Linked DNA regions of Homo sapiens: region 1 is linked to region 2. Evidence: fine-mapped expression QTL. A gene starts in region 2. The other region holds a variant in brackets. All regions are shown on one strand. Distances are from middle to middle. Region 1 overlaps TOGARAM2 (TOG array regulator of axonemal microtubules 2). Region 2 holds the start of CLIP4 (CAP-Gly domain containing linker protein family member 4).

Region 1 (12,130 bases), 110 kb before region 2:
GTAGATTCCAGTGGAGAAGTGGGAGGTGCTGAGATCTTAGAAAGAAAAATCTACAAATCTAGAAATAGGATAAAGATGTTGTATGAACCTTTAGTGCTGTCAACTCCTTTGCTTTACTGATGTGGGAACTGAGACTCAGAGAAGTTAGCTTATTTCCTCAAGGTCACACAGGTGGAAAAAGTGGGAACCCAGGCTCCTGAGTTCCAGACTAGGAGTCTTGCAGCCTGGGGATGGACGAGCTGGGTTTCCACCTGCGTGGTGGCTTCTCCAGGTGGTGGCTTAGGTCCCCATGGATGGTCCTGAGGTGGGCTCGGGAAGGGCTGAGCCAGGAGGGTGTGGGACCCACGTTTGTGAAGTGCCTACTTAGCAGCAGGTACAGTACTACAGAGATGAGTAAGACACAGTGACTGTTCCTAGGGAAGCTGCAGGGCAGGAACAGAGAGAGGCATGGGGAAGAGAGAGTAACACAGGGCTGTGCCTGGGGCTGTGGGAACACAGGAGAGGGAGGGCTTCTCTTTCTCTTTTAAAAATATTGACACATAATAGTTGTACATATTTTCTGGGTGTACATGTGATATTTGGATACAGGCATTCAATGAGTAATGATCAAATTAGGGTAATTGGGATTTCCAGCACCTCAACCACTGGCCATTTCTTGATGTTGGGAACATTCCAATTCTAGCTATTTTGAATTATACAATACATTATTATGAGCTATAGTCACCCTACTATACTATCAAACAATAGCTCTCATTCCTTCTATCTAACTGTATTTTTGTACCCATTAACCAACCTCTCTTCATTCCACCCCCTTCTCTTCCCAGTCTCTGGTAACCACCATTCTGTTCTCTGCCTCTGTGAGACTGACTTTTTAAGCTCCCATATATGAATGAAAACAAGTAGAATTTGTCTCTCTGTGCCTGGCTTACTTCACTTAAGATAATGACTGCCAGGCTGGGAGTGGTGGCTCACATCTGTAATCCTAGCACTTTGGGAGGCAGAGGCGGGCAGATTGCATGAGCTCAGGATTTCGAGACCAGCCTGGGCAACATGGTGAAACCCTGTCTCTATGAAAATACAAAAAAATTAGCTGGGCATGGTGGCAGGTGCCTGTAATCCCAGCTACTAGGGGGAGCTGAGGCAGGAGAATCACTTGAACCCAGGAGGCGGAGGTTGCAGTGAGCCGAGATCGCACCACTGAGACTCCATCTCAAAAAAAAAAAAAAAAAAAAAAAAAGATAATGACCTCCAGTTCCATCCATGTTGCTGCAAGTGGCAGGATTTGATTCTTTTTTTATTCTTTTTTATGGCCTAATAGTATCCCATTGTGTATATGTGCCACATTTTCTTTATCCATTCATCCATTGATGGACACTTAGGCTGATTCCATGTCTTGGCTATTGTGAATAATGTAATAAACATGAGAGTGCAGATAGCTCTTCAATGTACTGATTTACTTTCTGTTGGATATTCATCCAGCAGTGACCTCAAAAGCACAGGCAACAAAAGCAAAAATAGACAAATGGGATTCCATCAAGTTAAAAAGCTTCTGTAGACACAAGGAAACAGTCAATAGAGTGAAGAATAGGAGAAAATATTTGCAAACTATCCATCCGACAAAGGATTAATAACCAGAATATATAAGGAACTCAAACAACTCAGTAACAAAAACAGAGAATCTGCTTTAAAAACTGGCAAAAGATGGAAGGCTTCTTAAAGGAGCGCATGCCTTAGCTGAACTTCCCCTCCTCTTTCCTGACTCCTGCTCCCTGTATGCTCTCAGCTCAGTGGTCCCTCCCTCTGGGAAGCTTTTTCTGTCCCCATCTCTGGCCGGGCTCCCAGGCCCCGCACTGTCATTGCTTCTTAATCATTGTGTTCTCCGCCAGACTTCAAGTCTCACTGAGGACTGAGTCAGCCTTGCCCACTACTGTCTCACTGCACAGAGAGTGTTCACAAATCTCTGTGTCGCGGATAGAGGGTGTCTTTTGCTGAGCCGAGGGACGTTAGGAGAGAAGAGGGAAGATCAGTGTAGGACATGCTGATGAGGTGCCTGGGGACTTCCAAAAAGGAATTGGCAAGGTAATTGGATGCTCTGTAACGGGTGGGATTGGTCAGGGCGGAAGCCGTAGGGTAGGGGATTATCTGCAGGGTGTGGCAGTGAGGAAGTGTCCTGGGGAGAGCAGCTGGTGGACAGAGGTTGGGGATGGGCACTCCATCGGTCAATGATGTTGGGTGATGGAAGAGGGGTGCCCATGAAGGAGATGAAAAGGCATGGAGGGGGGTTTGGAACAAAGCCAGGATGCGAGGAGGGAGGAGGCAGCCAGGCTGAGAGGCTGGGGCAAGCGGGGTTGGAGGGATTTGGTGGAGATCACAGGCACCCTGCCTGGCCCTGCCAGGCTCTGGTGTTGGGGGTGGGGCCACCACATGCCTTGGTTTTTTGGGCAGGGACCCTGCGGGGTGGAGTGCTCAGGGTTACGGCCGGGTGTTCTTGGTTTGCTCCCAGTCTTGGCCTTGGAGGACTCTCAGGTGCTGCTCTCCTGTGCTTCTGTCTCCAGCCAAGGTCCTGGTCCCCGTGGCCGTGTACTGCGGGAGCATCCCTCGGACCAGTGCTGGGCCCCGGGTGCTCCCGCCTGGAAGCATCAACTCCAGTCTGCCTCATGGAGAAGGTGAGATGGGAAGACCTCACCTGGTCAGGGCCCCTGGCCTCATCCTGGAGCGGGGAGTGAGTGTGGTAGATGCCGGCTGTGTTCTCGAGCTACCAGCAGGTGTTATTTTTCCTGTGGCTCCTGCTGAAAATACCCTTTGATTCTTTCAAAGGCAGGTTCTTTTGATCCTGTGCCTCAGAGGTTGGAGGTGTGCAGAGGGGGACCCGCAGGAATAGGGAGCAGGGCTCTCTGCATGCGCCTGGACCTGGGAGTGCACTCAGCACCCAGGTTGGCAATGGGGAGGGGGCCCCTCTCAAGATGTCCACTCAGCGTCTCTGCCACTTGTCCAGCATCTGCAGCCTGGGTCTCTGGAGGGGCTGGGTTGTGGCCAAGCTTCTGAGAGCCCACCTGTCTGAATGCTCCCCCAGGGCCCAGGTGAAGAGCACCACTTCCTGAAGGTCTTCTAGAACCTCTTACCTCCTCTAAATGTGCAGAGTATTTTGTTTCTCTCCCATCTGGTGTGTCTGCTGGGGGTGGGGGTGATTTGCTCTGAGATGCCTGAGTTCCTCCTTGTAGTCTGTGCTTGGCATAGGTCAGTGCTCGGGGATCTGATGACTTTGTTGGACCCTGGAGATTGGTGGATGGTGGTCCCTGGGCAGACGACCTTCCCTATGATTCACGGCCTCTTGTCTGTGCTGCCATAGGACTGCCTGTGGATTCCCCCTTTTGTCCTGAGCACCTTGTGGCATGGGTCTTGTGAAGATTAGGTGCTTCAGAGACACTGTCGAATGAATGACTCGTCCCCAGGAGTGACTGAAACATTAAATGACTGGGTTTCACCAGGCAAGTGGCTGCCTGTTAGAAGGAAGCAATGTCAAGGAGCTTGCTGGTGCCTGGTGCCACCCTGGGTACTGCGTGCCAAGCCATTCACACCTCTGTCCCCCTCAGGTTCTCTCCAGCCTGAGCCAAGAGCCCTGCTGAACAACGAGGAACCGTCACAGCTCCTGCGTGGACTCGGACAGCTGGGTGGCCTCAAGCTGGACACCCCTTCCAAGGGCTGGCAGGCAAGGAATGGTCACCCCAGGAACCTCAGGGCCTTGTCTTTGGGGGACCAGCCCCTGGTGCTCCTCCCTTCTCCGGAGTCAGAGGCCAACAGCGTGGCCAGGGACACCATCCAGATTAAGGACAAGCTCAAGAAAAGGAGGCTCTCAGAGGGCTTGGCAGCGTCTTCCCGAGGTGAGCACTGGCCCCTGCCCACCCCTCACCCACCCACTTCCAGGTCAAGGGCCGCAGGCCTCCAGGGCTGTGAGGGTCAGCAGGCTTCCAGGTGGCATGCTGGGATGCCCTGGGGGTGATCGGTGGGTACATACCAGGTACCTTCTCTATGGCTTCAGCGACCTCCTTGGAGCTGAGCCTCCCTCCCGGGCTCTGCAGTGCTTCCCGACTGGCCTCTTCATTCCCACCCTTGCGCCTTCTAGTCTTGCTCCAGAAGGATCCTTTTAAGCAAATGTTCTTCCCATTTCCACCAACTATGCTCAAAATCAGCCAGTAGGTTTTGGATGTGCTTAGACTAAGATCCCAAATGTTCCCTTATGCACAAGACCTTCTGGCCCTGGCCTCACCCCAACTGTGTCACTCTCTGCCTTCGGTCTCTGCTGTCCAGGGCCTGGGGCTTGTGGGCTCTTTCCTGCCTGAGGTTTAGAGCCACTGCTCCTCCCCCACCCCTCCTCCGTTTCCCACTCAGAAAATCCCCACCCAGCCTCCCTTCTTGGCTTCAAAGCCCTCCTCAAAGAGGCCTCCTTGACTCCCCAATGTGAGTTTGCCCCTTAGGATGCTCTCCAATAATGCCCTATCATTTTTTTCCTTCAGTTCTTTTCATGGTTTGCATTTATATTTTTACTTTTGTGACTATTTAAAACCTGAATCTTGCATGTAATTGTCAGCTCCAAGAGGGCAGTGACTGAGATCTCGGTGTGAGGCACAGTCGCTTGGCAGCTAGGAGGCTCTCAAGAAACGTTTGTTGAGCAGATGAACAAGGGATTCAACAGCAGGCACTTTATACTGTCTCTCATCTGTGTGGTGGACAAGCCAAGTTCAAATCTTAGCCCCGATACTCACTGGCTCTGGGGCCTTGGGCAGGTCGGTAACATTTCAGGCCTCGATTTCCTCCTCTGTGGAATGGGGACACTATTAATAATACTTCTGTGTTACTGTGGGGGTTTAATGAAAACTTGTACACAGAATTCTCAACACCTGGCATATGGGAAGAACTTAATACATTGTTACTATTTTCCTTCCTTCTCTCCTCTTCTGGGTGAATCATACGGGCTCTTTTCAGCGGAATGAACTCTTGGGTAACAAGAGCAATAAGAAGTCTTGAGGTCTTAGGAAGAAAGGGGAAGTGCTCTCAAGAGGCACGTGGTTGCTGCCGTCAAGCCTGGGGTTGTGGTTGGCTGTTCTTCCCCTCCCCTGTGCAGACTGCTCCACCTGCTGAGCCTCTCCCTGGAGCCGTGGGGTGTCTCCAGCTCCCGGGGAGCCCAGGACAATGCCAGGGAGCCTCTGGGAGGAATTGTCCTGGCTGCACATTATGGAGGCAGAAGGTGGGGTTGGAATGCCCGAGAAGCTTCCTTAGAACTTCCAGTAGGTACAACTCCTAGAGCTGCCAGACCAACAACTCTCTCCCTTAGGGGCTTGAAGCCCTTTTCTAGATATTTCATTTCTTTTTTACAAAGTTCCAGCATAGGGAAAAAAAGAATGGAGTTGTTCTACCTAATGTTCTGATGGGCAGTGACCTATAGACTTATCAGGCCCCTCAGCAAGCATGGAGGGCCGGGGATCTCTGGCCCCCGGGCAGTGCTGGGGCTGCTCTGGCCCCTGCATTGAGGCTGAGTTGACTCCTCTGTGCCCTGACCCAGCTGGGGCTCAAGGTGGCCCGGCAAGTGGCACAGTCTCCACTTGACCACACCCCTTCTTTTCCATCCTTTCAGCTCCCCACAGGCTAACCACAACACAACAGTGCTCCAAGACAGAACAGAACCAGCACCGGAAGCCAGGAGGGGAGCGAGTGTGCAGGAACAGAGATGATATTTTGACTTGGCTGGTTTATTTTTTTTTAATTTTTTTTTTCTGGAACAGAGTCTCGCTCTGTCACCCAGGCTGGAGTGCAGTGGTGCGATTTTGGCTCACTGCAACCTCTGGGTTCAAGTGATTCTCCTGCCTCAGTCTCCTGAGTTGCTGGGATTACAGACAACCACCACTAGGCCCAGCTAATCTTTTTTTTTTTTTTGAGACCGAGTCTTGCTCTGTTGCCCAGTCTAGAGTGCAGTGGTGCGATCTCGGCTCACCGCAACCTCCACCTCCCAGGTTCAAGCGATTCTCCTGCCTCAGCCTCCCCGGTAGCTGGGACTACAGGCATGTGCCACCACGCCCGGCTAATTTTTAGTAGAGATGGGGTTTCACCATGTTGGCCAGGCTGGTCTTGAACTTCTGACCTCCAGTGATCCTCCCGTTCTCGGCCTCCCAAAGTGTGTGGGATTACAGGCGTGAGCCACTGCGCCTGGCCTGACTTGGCTGTTTTGATGCAGTGGTTTTGTTGAGGCCAGAATGAAAGTTAAAATGCTAGTCTTTTTTTTTTTTTTATTCCTCATCACTGATATTTACAAAGATAACCCTGAGCTCTTGGCCCAACCCAGTGCTTCTTGCCCTGTGCCTTTGCCTGAGGCATGGCTGTGGGGTGAGATGGGGTGGGGCACAGGGCGCTGAAGATGTCTGTTGGGCACCTAAAGCATTCAGAGGGGAGCTGGAAGTGTGGCGGTCTGTCTTAGACTATGTTAGCTGTGTCAAAACAGCTACGCCCCACATCACCAGCCGAAAAGGAAGGGGAAACAGTGGCAGGTACTTGCCTGGCATCTTATATAAGTGATGTTATTGAATCACCCCATTTCACAGAAGTGTAATGGGGTTCAGAGAGACAGTG[C/G]CTTGCTCGAGGTCACATAGCTTCTACCCACGGCCAGGACCTGCCATGCTTCCTCCTGATCTGGCACTGCTTTTATTTCCCTTCCTTCCCACGCTGCCTCTGAATTCTAAACAGGTAACTTGGATTGGCCCTTTCTGGAATGGCACAGACACTCAGAAGTGGCTGCTTGCTCAGTCTACCAGTGGTGGGGTTGGGGACAGATCTGATCTCTCTCCTCGCCATCCCAGTCCTTCCCAGGGCAGAAGGCCCCGTTGCTGGGGTCTGAATCCACCTTCCACTCCCTGTTCTTCTGGGACTAACTGATTTCCCATCCCCATCCCTGTACAGCCTCTCTGGATCCAGGGGGAGGCCCCCAAGGAGTTCCCCTGCACAGCACCATCCCCCGAGCCACCTCTCAGAGGCTGCTGAGGGTGCCCAGGCCGATGCCTCTCATCCAGAGCATCCCTACCACCCCTGAGGCCAGCGGAGTCAAAGAGAAGGGCCTGGACCTACCGGGGAGCATTCCGGGTCCTCACGAGTTGAGACCCGGTGCTCAGGAGGTAAGGTGGTTCGACTGCTGTGAGTCTGGTCCTCAGCTTCTTGCCCTCCCTTCCTCCTGCCTTTCTTTCTAGCCTCCACCAACCCCTGACTCCATGCCCTGAGCATCCCTGGAGGTGTCTTGAGGTCTGCAGTGAGGATAGGGACAGCACTGGGAGAGGCTCAAGGTGCTCATTTCACCACCTCCCCCAGCATCTCAAACCTCCATAGCTGGCCTGGGGGCTCTGGGTGGCTGTGCCAGAGGCTGCATGACCTTTGTCCTAGAACTGGTGGTCCCCTAGGCCTTCTCTGGTCTAAATGTTCCAGAATTCCTCCTGCTTTCTGGCCCTCTCCATTTTAAGCAAGAGTGTGGCAAAGAATGCTGGGCTAGGACTCAGATTTGGGCCTTGGTTTCTGTTTGCCCCTCACTGGCTGTGTGACCTTGTGCAAGTCACACCCCTCTTTGGGCCCCAGTTTGCACATCTATGAAAATAGAGGTTTGGCCCAGATGTGTTTGAAGGTCCTTCCAGCTCTGATGTTCTAGGATTTTTCTGAAATGAGAACAGAAAAACGAATAATAATAGTCACAAAAGGGCTTGCCAGTCTCCTCACCAGGAGTGGTAAGGAAGCAGTCAGGCTTCTGGGGGTCCCAGGGTGGTGTGGCTGAAAAGAGACAGCAGGTCCCACACTGTGTGAGGTGCCTGGAGGTGAGCATTCACCATGGGATGTTGCCATAGGCCAGACCCCTGTCCCGCCTCTGCTCCCAGGCGCAGATCTCCTGGCAATACCTGCACTGCAATGATGAGAAGATGCAGAAGTCCCTGGGCGCCATCGTGATCCCACCCATCCCAAAGGCCAGGACGGTTGCAGCGACCCCCTCCCGTGTGCCTGGCTCCCTTCCCAGCCCGTTACCTCCAGGCCAGGGAGTCCTCACAGGCCTGAGGGCCCCACGCACGCGGTAAGAGCTCCAAGTCAAACCTTCCTTGCTGACTTCTCTCCCTCTGTCCCCCTGAGATCCACTGGGGCTCCTTGTGGCTGACCCTCCATGCTGTGGCAGAGTTCTTGGGACACCAGGCAGGGAAAGGGCTGGGGGCTCCACCCATGAGCCACAGACCTAGGGAGGTCCCAGCATGGTTGCCGGGGCTTCTCTGCCTCTTGGCTCCGGCAGGCTGGGTCAATGGCATCACGAACAATGTCTCCAGCCTCTGTCTTCTCCCAGTGCCTTAGTGGATGAGGTTGCCGGAGTAATGAATAAAACACTAATTATTTTATCTCATATATATAATTTTGAGATGGAGTCTCACTCTGTCGCCCAGGCTGGAGTGCAGTGGTGTGATCTCAACTCACTGCAACCTCCGCCTCCCGGGTTCAAGCGATTCTCCTGAGTAGCTGGGATTACAGGCACCCACCACCATGCCCTGCTAATTTTTGTATTTTTAGTAGAGACGGGTTTCAGCATGTTGGCCAGGCTGGTCTTGAAACTCCTGACCTCAGGTGATCTGCCCTCCTTGGCCTCCCAAAGTGCTGGGATTATAGGTGTGAGACACCGTGCCCGGCTATGAATAAAACACTATTTTAAAGCATGATTGAGTTCATGGCAGCTCTTTGTAATTAAATATTTTCTTAATTGATGGATACTAAAAATACAACCAGTATCATGTGTATGGGGGACAGTCCACAAACTTTTGGACTTGAAAAGGGGTCTTCATATCCCACAAACAAGTGGGGAAGAGGATCTTTGTGTTGGCATAAATCGGGTTATGGCTTGTAAGTAAGACAGTGCTCTAGATGGCCAGCAACATCCCCGTGGTCAGTCCAGAGTGATGTCAGAGCACGTGTGTGTGAGAGTGAGTGTGTCTGAGTGTCTTTGTGTGTGCACACATGTATGAGTGCCTGCAGGTATGTGTGAGTGTATGTGTATGAGTGTGTATGTGTGCATGTATATGTGAGTATATGCATGTATGTGAGTACAAGAGTGTGTGTGTCTGAGTATGTGTATATGTGTGAGTGCATGCATGTGTGTGTGTGTCTGAGTGTGTGTGTGCATGAGTGCAAGAGTATGTGTCTGAGTGTGTCTGAGTGCATGTGTGGAGTATGTGTGTGCATGTATGTGTATGAGTGCATCTGTGTGGAGTTGTGTGTGCATGTGTGTGGAGTGTATGTGTACATGTGTGAGTGCATGTGTGTGCATGTGTACGTGTGTGAGTGCATGTGTGTGCATGTGTGTGCATGTGTATGTGTGTGAGTGCATGTGTGTATGTGTGTGAGTGCATGTGTGTGCATGTGTATGTGTGAGTGCATGTATGTGAGTGCATGTGTGTGCATGTGTATGTGTGTGAGTGCATGTGTGTGCATGTGTATGTGTGAGTGCATGTTGTGAGTGCATGTGTATGGGTGTGTGTGCATGTGTATGTGTGTGAGTGCATGTTGTGTGTGAGTGCATGTGTAAGGGCATATGTGTGCAGTGTGTGTGTGCATGTGTGTGGGTATGTGTGCATGTGTGTATATGTGTGTGGGACCATGTGTGTGAGTGCATGTGTGTGGAGTGTGTGTGCATATGTGTGTGTGTGCATGTGTGTGTGTGGGGTATGTGTGCATGTGTGTGTGAGACCGTGTGTGTGCATGTGTGGAGCGTATGTGTGAGAACGTGCATGTATGTGGGTGCATGTATGTGGAGTGTGTGTGTGCGTGTGTGAGAGCATGCATGTGCGTGAGTGCATGTATGTGAGAGCATGTGTGACTGCATGTGTGTGCATGTGTGCATGTGTGTGAGTGCATGTGTTTGTGTAACTACGTGTGTGAAGCCATGTGTGGTGTGTGTTCATGTGTGTGGAGTGTGTGTGCATGTGTGTATGTGTGTGAGGGCATGCATGTGTGAGCATGCATGTGAGTGCATGTGTGGAGTGTGTGTGCATGTGTGTATGTGTGTGAGGGCATGCATGTGTGAGCATGCATGTGAGTGCATGTGTGGAGTGCGTGCATGTGTGAGTGCATGTGTGCATGTGTGTGAGCACATATATGTGTGTATGTGTGTGTGTGAGTACATGTGTGGAGTATCTGTGTGTGCATGTGTATGAGTGCATGTGTGTGAGTGCATGTGTGTGCATGTGTATGTGTCAGTGCATGTGTGTGCATATGTGTCAGTGCATGTTGTGAGTGCATGTGTATGTGTGTGAGTGCGTGTGTGTAAGTGCATGTGTGTGGAGTGTGTGTGTGGGGTATGTGTGCATATGTGTATTTGTGTGTGAGACCGTATGAGTGCATGTGTAGGGTGTGTATGTGTGCGTGTGTGTGTGAGACCATATGTATGTGAGTGCATGTGTGGAGTGTGTGTGTATGTGTATGTGTGAGAGCACGTGTGTGTGTGTGGGGTGCATGTGTGTGGAGTGCATATGTGTGTGCATGTGTGTGAGAGCATGCATGTGCGTAAGTACATGTGTGAGCATGTGTGACCACATGTGTGTGCATGTGTGTGAGTGCATGTGTTTGTGTGTGTGACTGTGTGTGAAGCCATTTGTGGAGTGTGTGTGCATGTGTGTGGAGTGTATATGTGTGCATGTATGTGTGCATGTGTGTGTGTGAGTGCCTGTGTGTGGAGTGTGTGCATGTGTGTGTATGTGTGTATGTGTGAGTGCATGTGTGTGCATGTGTATGTGTGTGAGTGCGTGTGTGTGAGTGCATGTGTGTTCATGTGTATCTGTGTGTGTGCATGTGTGTGCATGTGTATCTGTGTGTGAGTGCATGTGTATGTGTGAGTGCATGTGTGTGGAGTGTGTGTGCGTGTGCTCAGGGCCTATGGGCCTGGCTCCTTCAGTAGAGTCACAATCCAGTTCCTGCTGTGACTGCTTCCCTCCCGTTTCTTGGGGCCTGATGACTTGGATTCTTCCATTTTTCTCACACTTCCTCATTCCCTCCATCTCCCTGGTGCCTTCCCTCTGTGCACACACATATTCATGTCTTTCTCCGACCCTGTGGGTTATAGAGACCCGTCCATGTACCTGCTCCTGGATTCGAGTTCTCTATTCAGTTTTCACCGTCAGCCTCCTCAGACAGCAGCTTGCTCCACTGACCTCCGCCTCCTCACCATTGCACACGTCCTCCCCTTTCCCACTCAGACGCTGGCCTCTTCCTCCCCTCGGAGCAGCCTTATCTGTGCCTCTCATGACTCACTGGCCCCAGACCTGTGGCCTTTCCTCTTATCTCTTTACTCTTGACTTTTTTGCATCATTTGAACCATGGATGGCCCTTGAATTTTTCTTCTTTTTCTGCATCCTGACTTTATACCTGCTTCTCGACCTTCCAGGCAGCTTCCTGTGTGCCCTCTTCCATTTCTAAGTTCTGCCATTCCCAAAATTGTTCCAGGACTGTTTGCCCCCATCTCCTGTTTTCTCCTGGGGCCCTTATGTGTGCCCAAGTCTTCCAGATGGTGGAATGTGGGTGAGTTCACATCTCCTGCTCTAGCCCTGGAACCATCCACAGGTCAGGCTCCGGGTTTCCATCTTTCTGTTGGGCATCTCCAGTTTCTCCTGGCTGATGTGATCCAGCACCAGAGGGAGAGACAGGGAGGTTGTGCCACCATCATGGCAACAAGGACCACCTCGTGTTTCCCCAAACCACCCCCTCCCAAGACCTCCTCATTGCTGTCAAGGTGCAGACCTTCTTCTTGGCCTTCAAGTCTCAGTGTCATCTTTGACCCTTGCTCCTAGTGCCTCCTGCTCCAACACATTTCCATAGCCCCCAAGTCTTTCTTAACAGCCATGAAAGCTCCACCCCTTTCTTGCCCCTGCCTTTCCCTCTTGGTTTGTACTTCCGCTTCCTTCTTGACCTCCCCTAATAGTGCCTAGCCAGTATCCTTGCAGCCCTGTGCGCTCCATCCCCATCTTTCATTTTCCTGCTTCCCCCGCCACCTTGCACACCTCTTGCAGGCCCTTTGCCTGTATTGACATTCCTGATTGAATGAATGGCGGGTCCTTTGTGTCAAGGACCCAGGCGC
Region 2 (12,130 bases):
GGATGATTCAGATCCCAGGCGGGACGGGGCAGGATGGCGTGAGATTTCATCATGCTACTCAGAATGGTGTGCAATTTAAAACTTATGAATTGTTTACTTCTGGAATTTTCCACTTAATATTTTCAGACTGTGGTGGATGGCAGCTAACTAAAACCACAGAAAGTGAAACTGCCGATAAGAGAAGACTACCGTACCCACCATTCAGCTTTAATAATTATCAATATTTTATTCTTTTTACATCTATCCCTCCACCACACACTTATTTTTAAGGGAGCACATTAAAGCAAATCCCAGACCTCAAACATTTTTCATACGTACTTCAGTATGGATGTCTAACAGACAAGAATTTTTAATAGAAACATGACCATCATGTCATGATCATCATACCTCCCAAAATTAACACTATTGAAAATATAATTTAATATCCAGTCTAGGCTAAATTTCCCCCATTTGTCTAAGGAATATTTTCACATTTGTTTGTCTGAATCCAGATCCAAATAAAGTCTGGACATTGCAGGCTGTGGATGGAGCTCTTATGTCTCTCCTGGTCTATAACCATTCCCCTCAGCCATTTTTTGGTTGTCAGAATTGGGTTATTTGTTCTGTAGAAATTCCCACATTTTGGCGTTGGATGATTGCATCCTCATGGTGTTTTTTAAAAAATGATTTTTATTATGCCTTACATTTTCTATAAAATAATAGTTATTTCTAGAGGCTTGGTCAGAGTCCGTTTCAGTGGCAAGTGCTGGGGAGATTGTTGGACTGACATCCTCATGGAAACTGGCTTGTGTTATTTTTGTGTGCCAAAGATGCTTCTGGAGGCGTCTTATTGGCCAAAAATTTGGGGGGTGGCTGGTACCCGAAACTTAGCTTTTGTGCCACAGTGGCAATTTTCATCCTAATGCCATGTGACATTCCTTTTGTTCCGTCTTCCTTTATGTAGGCTTTAAGAAGACTTCAATTTTTTTTAAAAAATAAAAATACATCATAATTGCATATATTCATGAGGTACACAGTGATGTTGCAACACATATAATGTATAGTGATCAGATCACAGTCATTAGCACATCCATCATCTCAAACATTTGTTTCTTTGTGTTGAGAACATTCAATATCCTCCTTGTAGCTATTTGAAACCATATAATATATTATTGTTAACTATAGTTATCCTACAGAGTTATAGAGCACTAGAACATATGCCTCCAATCTAGCTGTAATTATAAAGAAGACTTTGCATCATGTGGTGTCTGAGAGTGGCAGCAACTGGAGGGTCTGGGGAGCAGTGCCCCATGTAGGAACATGCAAATTCCTTTGTTAGTGTCTTCTCAGGAACTAGGGCTAAGAAAAGGGAAAATAAATTTATAGAATAGGGCCGGCATGACAGCTCATGCCTGTAATCCAGCAGTTTGGGAGGCTGAGGTGGGTGGATCAGTTGAGGTCAATAGTTCAAGACCAGCCTGGCCGTCATAGCGAAACCCCGTCTCTACTAAAAATACAAAAATTAGCCAGCCATGGTGGTGTGCATCAGTAATCCCAGCTACTCGGTAGGCTGAGGCAGGAGAATCGCTTGAACCGAGGAGGTGGAGGTTGCAGTGAGCTGAGATTGCGCCACTGCATTCCAGCCTGGGTGACAGAACAAGATTCTGTCTCAAAAAAATAAAAAAAGAATAAACATAGAATAGCATGAAACTAAACTAGATCAACTGAATGGAAATATCTGAGGAGGTCTTTAAGGGTTTATTTTGCAAAAGATATCCAGGTGATTCTAATGCACAACCAGGAATGAGAAGCCCCATTCAGATAATAAGTCTCGTGCGGCTCAATGGAGTCCTCTTCAGTTTGTGGTCTACTTCAGCAGGCAGTCCCCACCTGCAACCTTGACAAAGGAGATGGATTAGAGGAGGGCAAGCCCAGGTAGAAGCAGTAGGAGGTTCCTGGGGTCTCCAGTGGCTACTGATTTGTAAGGATTTCTATGGTATGTGAATTTACTTAATAAATGATATCATAAACTTTTTGAAGAATGAAGACAGGGAGTTTGGTTTGGAGAATCCAAAAATATGATAGGAAGAAAGGATGACTCCAGTGAGCAAAAAGAAGAATAGAGTTGCCATTTACTGACATAGGGAAGGTTATGGGGAAGGGTTCCATTTTGAACATGTTCTATTTGTGATATGTAATGTATGCTGTAGAATGGATGTTGAGTAGGCAGTTGGATATACATCTGAGGTTCAGGGCTGGAGATAGAAATTTGGAAATCAGGAAAACAGAGATGATATTTGTTTATTTATTATTATTATTTGAGATGGAGTCTCACTCTGTCCCCTAGGCTGGAGTGCAGTGGCATGCTCTCAGCTCACTGCAACCTCCACCTCCCAGGTTCCAGCAATTCTCCTGCCTCAGCCTCCCAAGAAGCTGAGATCACAGGTGCACGCCACCATGCCTGGCTAATTTTTGTATTTTTAGCAGAGACCAGGTTTTACCATGTTGGCCAGGTTGGTCTTGAACCCCTGGCCTCAAGTGATCCTTCCTCGGCCACTGAAAGTGCTGGGATTACAGGTGTGAGCCACCACGCCTGGTCAATATTTAAAGCCATAGACTGAATAAGGTCACCTAGTGAATGAGAAACTGACTTCCTGGAAACTGCATGAACAAGGTGCTTATAGAACCACTGTAAGGGTTTCTCTGAGGCATATCCAGGAGGGTGACTGCTGAGTCATAAAGCATACTGCTAATTTTTTTCACTAAGCACTGCCAGGTTGATCTGCAGAATATATTTACCAGTTTAAATTTCCATCAGCAGTGCATCTTTCCCCAGATCTTTGCCAATATTTGGGATTATCTTTCTGATTTCTGCCATGCTGGTGGGTGAAGCAGTGGTGTGTTGAAAACAGTTCATGAGAGCTGATAAAGCACATTTCTTCCCAACTTCTTGTTCAGTGACCTCAAGCTACACTGGTAGCTGGAAACTGGCAGTGCTCAGAGTATTTGCACCATGGAAATTGGCAAACACTGTACGTTAGGACTTTTCCTTCCCTGGGGAGCGGGTTTTAAAACATAGACCAGCATATTGGTGGCTATGGGGTCACACTCTTTATATTCCCACTCTGATTACAAGTGGGGTTGAGCATCTCTTTAATGCTTGCTTGCCATTCTGGCTTTTCCTTCTGTGAATTGTCTATTCTTATACTTTTCTCATTTTTATATTGGCCTTTAAAATATTTTATATTGACTTCCTTTTGATTTGTGAAAAGTTCCTCATGCATTTCAGATATTAATCCCTAGTTGCTTTTGAACATAGCACATGTTTTCTTCCAATTTGTCAGCCATCTGTTAATTTTTTCTATGGTATTCTTAACTGAACAGAACCCTTAATTGTGATGCAGTCAAGTCATACAATTTTTTTTTGCTTCAAGGATTGTGCTTTTGCAAACCTGTTTTATGAAGTAAATTCCTAACCCACATTATAGAGATAGTCTCCTGCATTTTCTTTTGTATCATATGTAGGTCTGCCATTTATCTGGAGTTCACCTTTGTATATGGCAGAACATGGGGCTCTCAACTTTATTTTTCCTTGATAAATTAAAGCCAGTTTCCCGAATGCCGTCTTCTAAATAATTTATATTTTTCTCATTGATCTGTGGTACCACCTTTGTGTAAATGGAGGTAGCATTTATACGTGGGTCTGCTCCTGAGTTCTTCATTCTGTTTCCTATTTGCTCTATGTGTTCCTATACCAGTACCATAATATTTTTATTACTATGTGGCAATGACATAATATCTGGCATGGCAGGTCTGCTCTGGTTTTTATAATTGACTTAACTGTTTAAAATTTATTTCTCCTTATATATTTTGTAAGTTTGTTGAGTTCCCTAAAAATTTAGTTTCTGCTGGAATTTTGGTTGCCATAACATTTACTTTGGAGACTAAATGGATACTTTTACAATGTAAAGTCATCCTATCCATGCTGTATCTCTCCACTTATTCAATATTTTATGTCCTTAAATAGAGTTTTAAAATTTTCTCCTTAAAGTTTTTGCAAGTTGTTGGGTTAATTCCTGGATATTATGCTTTAGAGTTTGTTAAACTTTATTGTTATTGTGAATGGTTTCTTATTGTCTGTTACATTTCCCAGTTGCTTACTGCTGATGTAGACAAAACTATTGATTTTTAGAAACTGATCTTGTACTTGGCAACCTTGCTGAGCTAACATTACTTCTAATACTTTGTTGATTCTGTTGGGCTTTTTATGCTGATGATCACACCTGTAAACATCACAGACAGGAAGATATTAGGGGCTCTGCCCAGTGCTCTGATCTTTTGCATTTAAGCACTTCTGCTAGTTGAACTCCAATCTGGTGCCCCAATTCTGACAGTTGGGTGTCTCTCATGGTCCTAAGGGCCTAGGCCCCCTATACACTCACAAATTAGAAACTGATGATATTCCATCCCATATCCAGTCCATGTAAAAGCAGTGACCTTGTCTTCTTTTGCTATTTCCTCTAACCCTTTTATCATGGTCGGGGTCCTGAGAGCTGCTGACAGATCTTCCTGCTGCCGAGTGTCTGAATTCCTGAATGCTGCTCTATGCAGCCATTCTGGGTCTTTAATGCCCCCAAAGACAGCCTGTGTAGGTTAGCAAAGTAGTGAATCAACATAGGCCTTCAGATCAGACAGACTTAGGTTTGAATCTTATTTCTGCCCCTGGCTACATGGAGCAAGTCACGCAGCCTCCCAGAGTCTGCTTCTTCATTTGTAAAGTGAAGACAAGATTTCCATAGGTCAAGTGCCTTACAGTGGTCAGTGAGTAATGCCCTTTCTCCACACTGTGATGTTGACCAGTAAGTTGATCACCTCCTGACGCTGTGGATTATTGCTATACTTTTCAGGAACTTTGTGTCTCCAGATAGAATTGAATCTCAGCAGCTACAGTTGGTCCACATCCCCATGTGCCTTCCCACCCCAATGAATAGTTCAAGTTCCAAGTTCTGGCCACATATCATTGTCCAGTCTCACTCTGGTTAACTGGGCAATACCTGGTTCTAAAGCTTGTATGTCACGAGGTATTCTAGGAAGCATGACTCCAACGAGCACTTGCATTCTTGATGATGGTATAAAGAAGTAACGTCAGATTTTTGAACAAAGGCAACTAAGTGAGTGGGAGACTCTGGTGGCTTGGTATCCTGGGAATTTGCCTATGTATCATACAGTGTTTGGGTGTAGCAGATAAAGCCAGTGGCCTGGCTGGTTCTAACAGAGATCTTTATTATAACTAAGAACAACTGAGCTAGCCATGCCTTGTCACCTACTAATAGTGGTATTTCAGATGGATAATTTAAATCAGCAATAAAAGTGAACTGTATACGTTTGGAAACTTCACCAATAGCTACTCTGTTACACACAGATCTTTATGACTTTCTGTGGTTCAATGACAATTGGCCTCATTTATAGGTGCTTGAAGCCAACCAAGGGCAGATTGCCTTCCTTCTTTTAACCAGCTAAAGAGATGGGTGGGTCAGACAAGAAGAGGGTATGATGAAAGCAGGGAAAGGGAGGTGGACTCTTCAGAGGGAGGAGGAAGTATCCGTGTCACATTATCTCTGAGAGCACTCGCAGATGCTGAGCCTGCAGAGACAGAGAAACTGGCAGCTGACCAGGGTCAGGGATGGTCATGTATTCAAATATTGTGGGTTTTAGTCAAGTGTGCTCCACCCGATTCAACAATGTGATGTGACTGCTCCTAGCAACTATTTTGATATGGTGAATGTTGTTAAGCATAGGACCTAAGAAGAGGTGGCAGTCTCTTTCCTCTCCGCACTTGGCAGGCCACCCACTCATTCCTGATAATCACATTTAAGAGAGCTCTGGACAAGCTGGAATGCATCCAAGAGAATCCCTCAACATGCTGGTGAGTGGGATTGTGACCAGGTCATATCAGGAGTAGCCTAAGGGACAGGTAATGTGTGTCTTGGATGAATTGGAGTCAGACTTAAGAGTCCCCAGGGCAGAAACAAAATCCAGTGAGGGAGAGATGCAGGGAGCTGGATTTTAGCTCCTAAGGTAGAAAATTTCCAAAAGGCTGATCAAAGATTAAATGGCTGCCTTAAAAGGTAATGAGTTCCTTGTTAGTGGAGGTGTTCAACCACTGCTTGGTGGGAAGACACTGTAAGGAGGATTCAGGCAAGTGGGAAGGGGGCTTTTTCCAGTCCCTGAAATCAATGATTCTAACAGGAAAAGATGCTCCGGGGTGCGGTGAGCGCTTACCTCTGCTCTTGCAGAGACACTGACAGACGTTCATTCAACATCTGTTCCTGCCAGGCACTGTGCGCGCTGAACACAGAAGTACAGCCTCTATGAAGCAGCCGCTGTAGGCCTCAGAGACAGCTGATAGATGTAACACTGTTGTCTCCATGTTTCAAACTTCGGTCATGGTCTTACTAGGTCTCCTCATTAAGGGGACTCACTATGTGTCCAGTAACGCTTTCTTGTTACCAGATGACAGAGAGTCAGGCTGTCAGAGTTCACGACTTTAGGTGCACAGTTTCACCCTGTCTGGTCCTTGGGAGACGGAGAAGGGGTCAGGAGAAAACGTGGGTGAAGAGGCAGCAAAGCCGCAGGAGATATGAACTAATTGCTCAACGTGGGTGTAGCACGGATTAGGCCTTTTACAGCAAGCGCTGCCAGCAGGGAACTGGTGGATGTACTCTTGACCACGCTCGGCTGGACTCTGGGGAGCCCAAGACGGGTAAGACTAGGTCCCCGGCCCCAGCAGCTGGTGGGGGCGCCGCAGGTTAGAGACGTGAGGCCGCGAGGCTGAGGGCTGTGAAGGCGGTGGGCACGCACGGCGTGCCGGGGCCGCCTGGCTTCGCGGCGGGGGAGGTAACACTGCGACACCCCGCAGACGCTGTCAGCCGGGGTCGCGGCCCCGCGTGCGCCCGATCATCTGACTGCTGGGGAGTGCGGGGGCGCGGGAGCCAGGCGAGCCAGCGCAGGCGCGCGCTGCCTCCTCCGTCCCCACCGAGTCCCCAGCGCGTGCGCGGGGCCGTGGCCGAGGCCTGCGCGCCGCCCGGCCGCCTGCACTGCGCGCGCGCCCACCCCGCGTGGGAGGCAGCGGGAGGGGCCCGGAGAGGTGTGGAGCGGCGCGGCGGGAGGCTCCGTGGGCGGCCACGGGAGACAGCGCCGGCGGGAGCGCGCCTCTCGGCCTTTCCTCCGCGCCCCCGCGTCCCCAGCCGGCCGCTCCGAGAGGACCCGGAGGAGGCAGGTGGGCCGGGGGCGCGCGGGGCCCCCCCGGGCCGCGGGCTGGCCGGCGGCGGGGTTGGGGCCGGGGTGGGCGGCCCTGGGGGCCCGCGGGGAGGTCAGTGGCCCCGGGAGGGTCGCGCAGAGGCGCTGGGGGCTGTGGAAGCCCCGCGGCCGCCTCCCGTGGGCACCGGTGTCGCTGGCCGCGGGGAGGCCTTCTCGGGGCGGAGCGGCCCACCCGGCGGGGATGGGGACTCCTCGTGGCGGCCGCTGACGGACGGCCCAACTTTAGGTTGAGGGGCGCGGGGTGTGCGGGACCCGGCGGCGGAGCTGGGCTCTGGGCCACGACCGCCAGCCGCGGCTGCCCCGAGAGTCCCCGCACGCGCAGTGGCTTTCCAACGCGGCCTCTTCCCATTTCTCACTTGACTCCCCTTGCGCATTAAATTGTCGAGAAACCTTTGGCCAGTGGGTCTTCAAAGCTAAACCAAATGGCTGTCCTTGCAGTCCTTGGCTACCTGAGATCCCTTAATTCTGAACCATCCGCACCTGGGAGGGGAAGTTGAAAGGAGCGCTGGAGCTGAGCCCGCATCCTTAAGGATCCCATTCACTGCTTATGATGGTAGAGCTTTGAATTAGATGTCAGGCTGTTCACGTCATCCAGACTCTGGTTTTCAGCTCTGTGCTGAGACAGTGTTTTGATACGTATCAGAGGATGATGTTCCTATGGGACAATAACTTGCTGTATGTTCTGAGATACTAGACTGCGTTCATATTGTAGCACCATCATCGTATAAAACGGGCGCCTTTGAAAGGTTTCAGTAAACACCTTCCTCAGGAACATCCGCCAGCACTTAAATTGTACTTCACTTTCACTTTGACGTTTGTTGTTTGTGAATCTTGTGCACAATTTAAAGTGAGTCGTCTAAACAGCACAGGATCACGTGGTGCGGGGCATTGAGCAACTGGGGAGGAAAGCAGAGACTTGAACCTGCTGGAGTCTAGTTGGTCTGCGTTTTTATGTTGGAGAACCATCCTGGTTCCAGCTTATTTTGCTTTCGTAAATATGATGCATTTTTTAAATGCTTTCATTTGATACGGTCTATCTGGACTGTAAGATTGAGTCTAGCCATGCATGGAATGTGTTTACTTCTGTTTTGTAGAAGATTTAGCCCATGGTATTCTATTTGTAGGATTCATTTCAGACATTTTGTGTTTACCACATACAGTCCCACCAGCAAGGGCTTTTAAAAAAGTGACCTATGTTGTCTCTCATAGCTTATGACAACTCCAATTTTGACACGTGTTTGAAACTAGTGATCTTTAGATTATATAAAATCAACTTCACTCTTTCTCCCTGTTCAAACCTCAAACTCTGGTTACTTTTAGGCTTACTGCTCCCTTGTTAATTATTTATAATGAACTATGGAGCTATAGGCTTGCTTTAGTGTGTTAACCTTTATTTGTGTCTTGTTTCAGGCATTTGTATATTGTTTTCTCATCTGGAGAGTGAGCTGCACTGTTTTCCTTCAGTGCTGTTTAGAAGAGCTTTCGGAGACCAGAAACATGTTCTTTTTGCATTACCCAATATGGTAGCACTAGCCACATATAGCTTTTGACCACTTGAATGGGGCTAGAGCAGTGGAAGCACTGAAATTTTAATATTTTTTTTCTTTTCCTTTTCTCTCTCTCTTTTTTTTGTTTTTGTTTTTTTTTTTTGAGACGGAGTCTCGCTCTGCTCTGTCACCCAGGCTGCAGTGCAGTGGCCTGATCTCTCCTCACTGCAATCTCTGCCTCCCAGGTTCAAGCGATTGTTCTGCCTGAGCCTCTCGAGCAGCTGGGATTACAGGCGCCTGCTACCACACCCTGTTAATTTTTGCTGTGGGGTTTCACCATATTGGCCAGGGTGGTCTCGAACTCCTGACCTGAAGTGATCTGCCCATCTCGGCCTCCCGAAGTGTTGGGATTACAGGCATGAGCCACTGCACCTGGCCAATTTTTAAATTAATTTAAATAGTCACATGTGGCTAGTAGTTAGCTGGTCAGATGCCACAGCTTTAACTTATTAGTCTCCAGGAAGCCTTCGTTGACCCTCTTGAATCTGTGCTTTCATAGGACTCAGCTGTCCTTGGTCATAGCACTTACTACTTTCAACTTTCTGGTAGGAATCAACACTAGGCTGTAATTTATATGAGGGCAAGGACAGATCTGGTTTCTTTACCTTTGCATAGCTTAGAACTTAGTAAGAAAAACTGAATAAATATTTGTTAAATGCATAAATAGCTTTTTCAGGGCAGGTATTTCAATTTTTAATTCTCTCTAAGGCCAACTAAGTGTTCAGTACTGTAAATACCTGTTTAGTAGATTGTACAGATGTTATGTAGGTAGCAAATAAAAGGATCATTGGAGTTATGCTTTAAATACTTACGTGGTGAGATTGGAATCTCAGGAGAATGATGACTCATAACAAAGTATTACAGGAAATTGAATGAAAGGGCCTCATGATTCCAGCTAATGTAGACACAGCTTTGGTCTCCTATTAGTTGAATAACTCAAGGACACTCTTGAACCATATCTCAAATCTGAAGTCTCCTGGCTTCAGTAAGGCCCTTTTATGGGGTCCAGACAGTCCTGAACCAGCCTGAAGATGCTAGTGGACATCCCCATTTATTACTGCTCTGTGTTAAAGCATGGACCAAGGAGTCTTGGAAAAAAAATCACAAGGTATTTGAGCCACGTTATGTAAGATGCTTTTGCTAACAGCTAACTTGGAGTGATGAGTAGGGTGAAATTCCTATAGAAATCAGAGTTTGGGGAATTTGATTCTAGCTATTGTTAGTATCAGAGGCACCTGTTCTGTAGACAGTTGATTAGTGCCAATTTTTTTTTTTTTTTTTTGAGATGGAGTTTCGCTCTTCTTGCCCAGGCTGGACTGCAGTGGCGGGATCTCGGCTTACCGCAATCTCTGCCTCCCAGGTTCAAGCGATTCTTCTGCCTCAGCCTCCTGAGTAGCTGGGATTACAGGTGCCCTCCACCATGCCCAGCGAATTTTTTGTATTTTTAGTAGAGATGGGGTTTTGCCATGTTGGTCAGGCTGGTCTCGAATGCCTGACCTTGGGTGATCCACCTGCCATGGCCTCCGAAAGTGCTGGGATTACAGGTGTGAGCCACCATGCCTGGCAGGGCCAATATATATATATATATTTTTAACCTGAGGCTTACTTTATAATCAGTTATCACCAGTTAACCATAGTTGGATTTGGAATGAAAGTGTGTACTCAGTTCAGATCAGTATACTTAGACATTTGACCAAGAGTCCAGGTGTTGTAGGTCTTCAGATCCAGGAATTGCTTTTAGGAAATGAATCTGAGACTATAAGGAAGTTTATAGGGGTACATAGTTTCCTTTGGGAGGACAAAAGGTAGAATGTTAAGTTTTTCACGAAAATAAGGAAATGTAACTAGAGAAAAACGCAACAAAGACAAAATACAAAGAATGTTCACTGCATTGGTCAGGTAATATTGTAGCTTCTTCTGGACTTGAAGTATCTAATATGTAAAAGAATGAAGCTGGTTACATCTGATTGCATGAATCCTCTTTCCACTTTGAATCTAAGCTTTGAATATTAGTTAAATATGTGTAACACACTATTCTAGCTCCTGTGGTGACTGCTAGTTGTGTACGATAGAGTTCGTATCTTTGAGGATCTCAACAGTTTACAAGGAAATGAAAGGTGCTCTGGGGATCACTTAAAATTTTTTTTTTTGAATGGGAGACTCCACCCTTTGAAAGGGAAGTCATGTGGTGACTCCTCTTAACCGACTCAGACAGATATCCACTGAATCTTTTTGCTGAAGAATTAAGAGTATAAAAACATGTCTGAGTCCCAAACCGTGATTATAGTCAGATTAATTTTCCTAAAACAGCTTTAATCATGTTACTCTCTTTAAAAAAATCAGTAGTTTCCCAGTGCTCATGAAAGTAAGTGGTTTGGTCTTTGATGAGGTATTTGCTCCTCAGTACAGCCCTAAAAAGCCCTTACAGCCTCACCTCTGACTGTTTTCCTAGTCATATCCCAAGTTCCAGCCTACTGTTCTTTTAATGGGATCCCCTTTTATATTGATACCTATTCATCATTCAAGACTCATCACAGATGATACCTTCTTCACCATTTATGATTCTTAGAAGCTCCAACTGCAAATGTTCCTGGTACTTATGTGATGGAGCAGATCCCATTCTGCCTCATAATCTATAGTTATTAGTGGTATTTTATTCACCTTAATAGATTGTAAACTACCTAAGAAGCATGGACCATCTGTTAACTCATTTTTGTATTTGCTGAAACATCTAGAATAGTGTCTTGTATATAGTGGTTCCTTAATAAATACTCATTACTGTTTGGAATTGATAGTATTTGAGGAAGATCACCGCTGCTCTATAACACTAATTCCATGAACTTGTCATTTTCCTATTTATGTGGCAAGGTTAATGTCAAAATGCTTCTAAGTATTTGGTGGTAAGTAATTTTAGCATCCAAGAAAATGTGAATACCTTAAAATAGTAACAACTGGATTAGGTTACCTAATATATAACATCTATATCCATATAAGCATACGATTTTTGAGGAAAAAGAAAGCCTCCTACTTTTTACCAGTTCCTGCCAGTATTAAGAAAACATGAATCAAGTTAGGAAGACAACAGTGAGCTCAATGAAATGACTGTTTTATTGTAGTGGGGAACTGATGGTAAGGATAATTGAGTTAGATATAGGGTTGGTTAAGTAGAACAGAGCACACATTAAGTAGTAGCTAGTATGGTGTTGTCTACTACCAGATCAAGCCATTGATTACCTATTTTTATTCTGTGCTTTCTACTGAAATAATCTAAACTCATTTTTCAT

Evidence for each region.
Region 1: its variant is fine-mapped to the expression of CLIP4 in whole blood (INTERVAL, PIP above 0.99).

What each region holds. Positions count from the first base shown.
Region 1 is chr2:28,995,588-29,007,717 of GRCh38, forward strand. It overlaps TOGARAM2 (TOG array regulator of axonemal microtubules 2), which reads left to right. Exons shown (of 20, transcript NM_199280.4): 3 at 2,556-2,666; 4 at 3,594-3,881; 5 at 6,949-7,160; 6 at 7,905-8,095. Among named protein-coding and RNA genes, the nearest start is that of TOGARAM2, 20 kb to the left of the region's middle. The variant C/G (reference allele first, on the strand shown) is at 6,622.
Region 2 is chr2:29,108,408-29,120,537 of GRCh38, forward strand. CLIP4 (CAP-Gly domain containing linker protein family member 4) reads left to right here and starts at 7,008. Exons shown (of 16, transcript NM_024692.6): 1 at 7,008-7,258. It overlaps LOC105374386 (a long non-coding RNA gene), which reads right to left and starts at 6,337. Exons shown (of 3, transcript XR_007086265.1): 1 at 6,262-6,337. RefSeq lists an enhancer at 1-292 and silencers at 6,869-7,228, 7,419-7,658.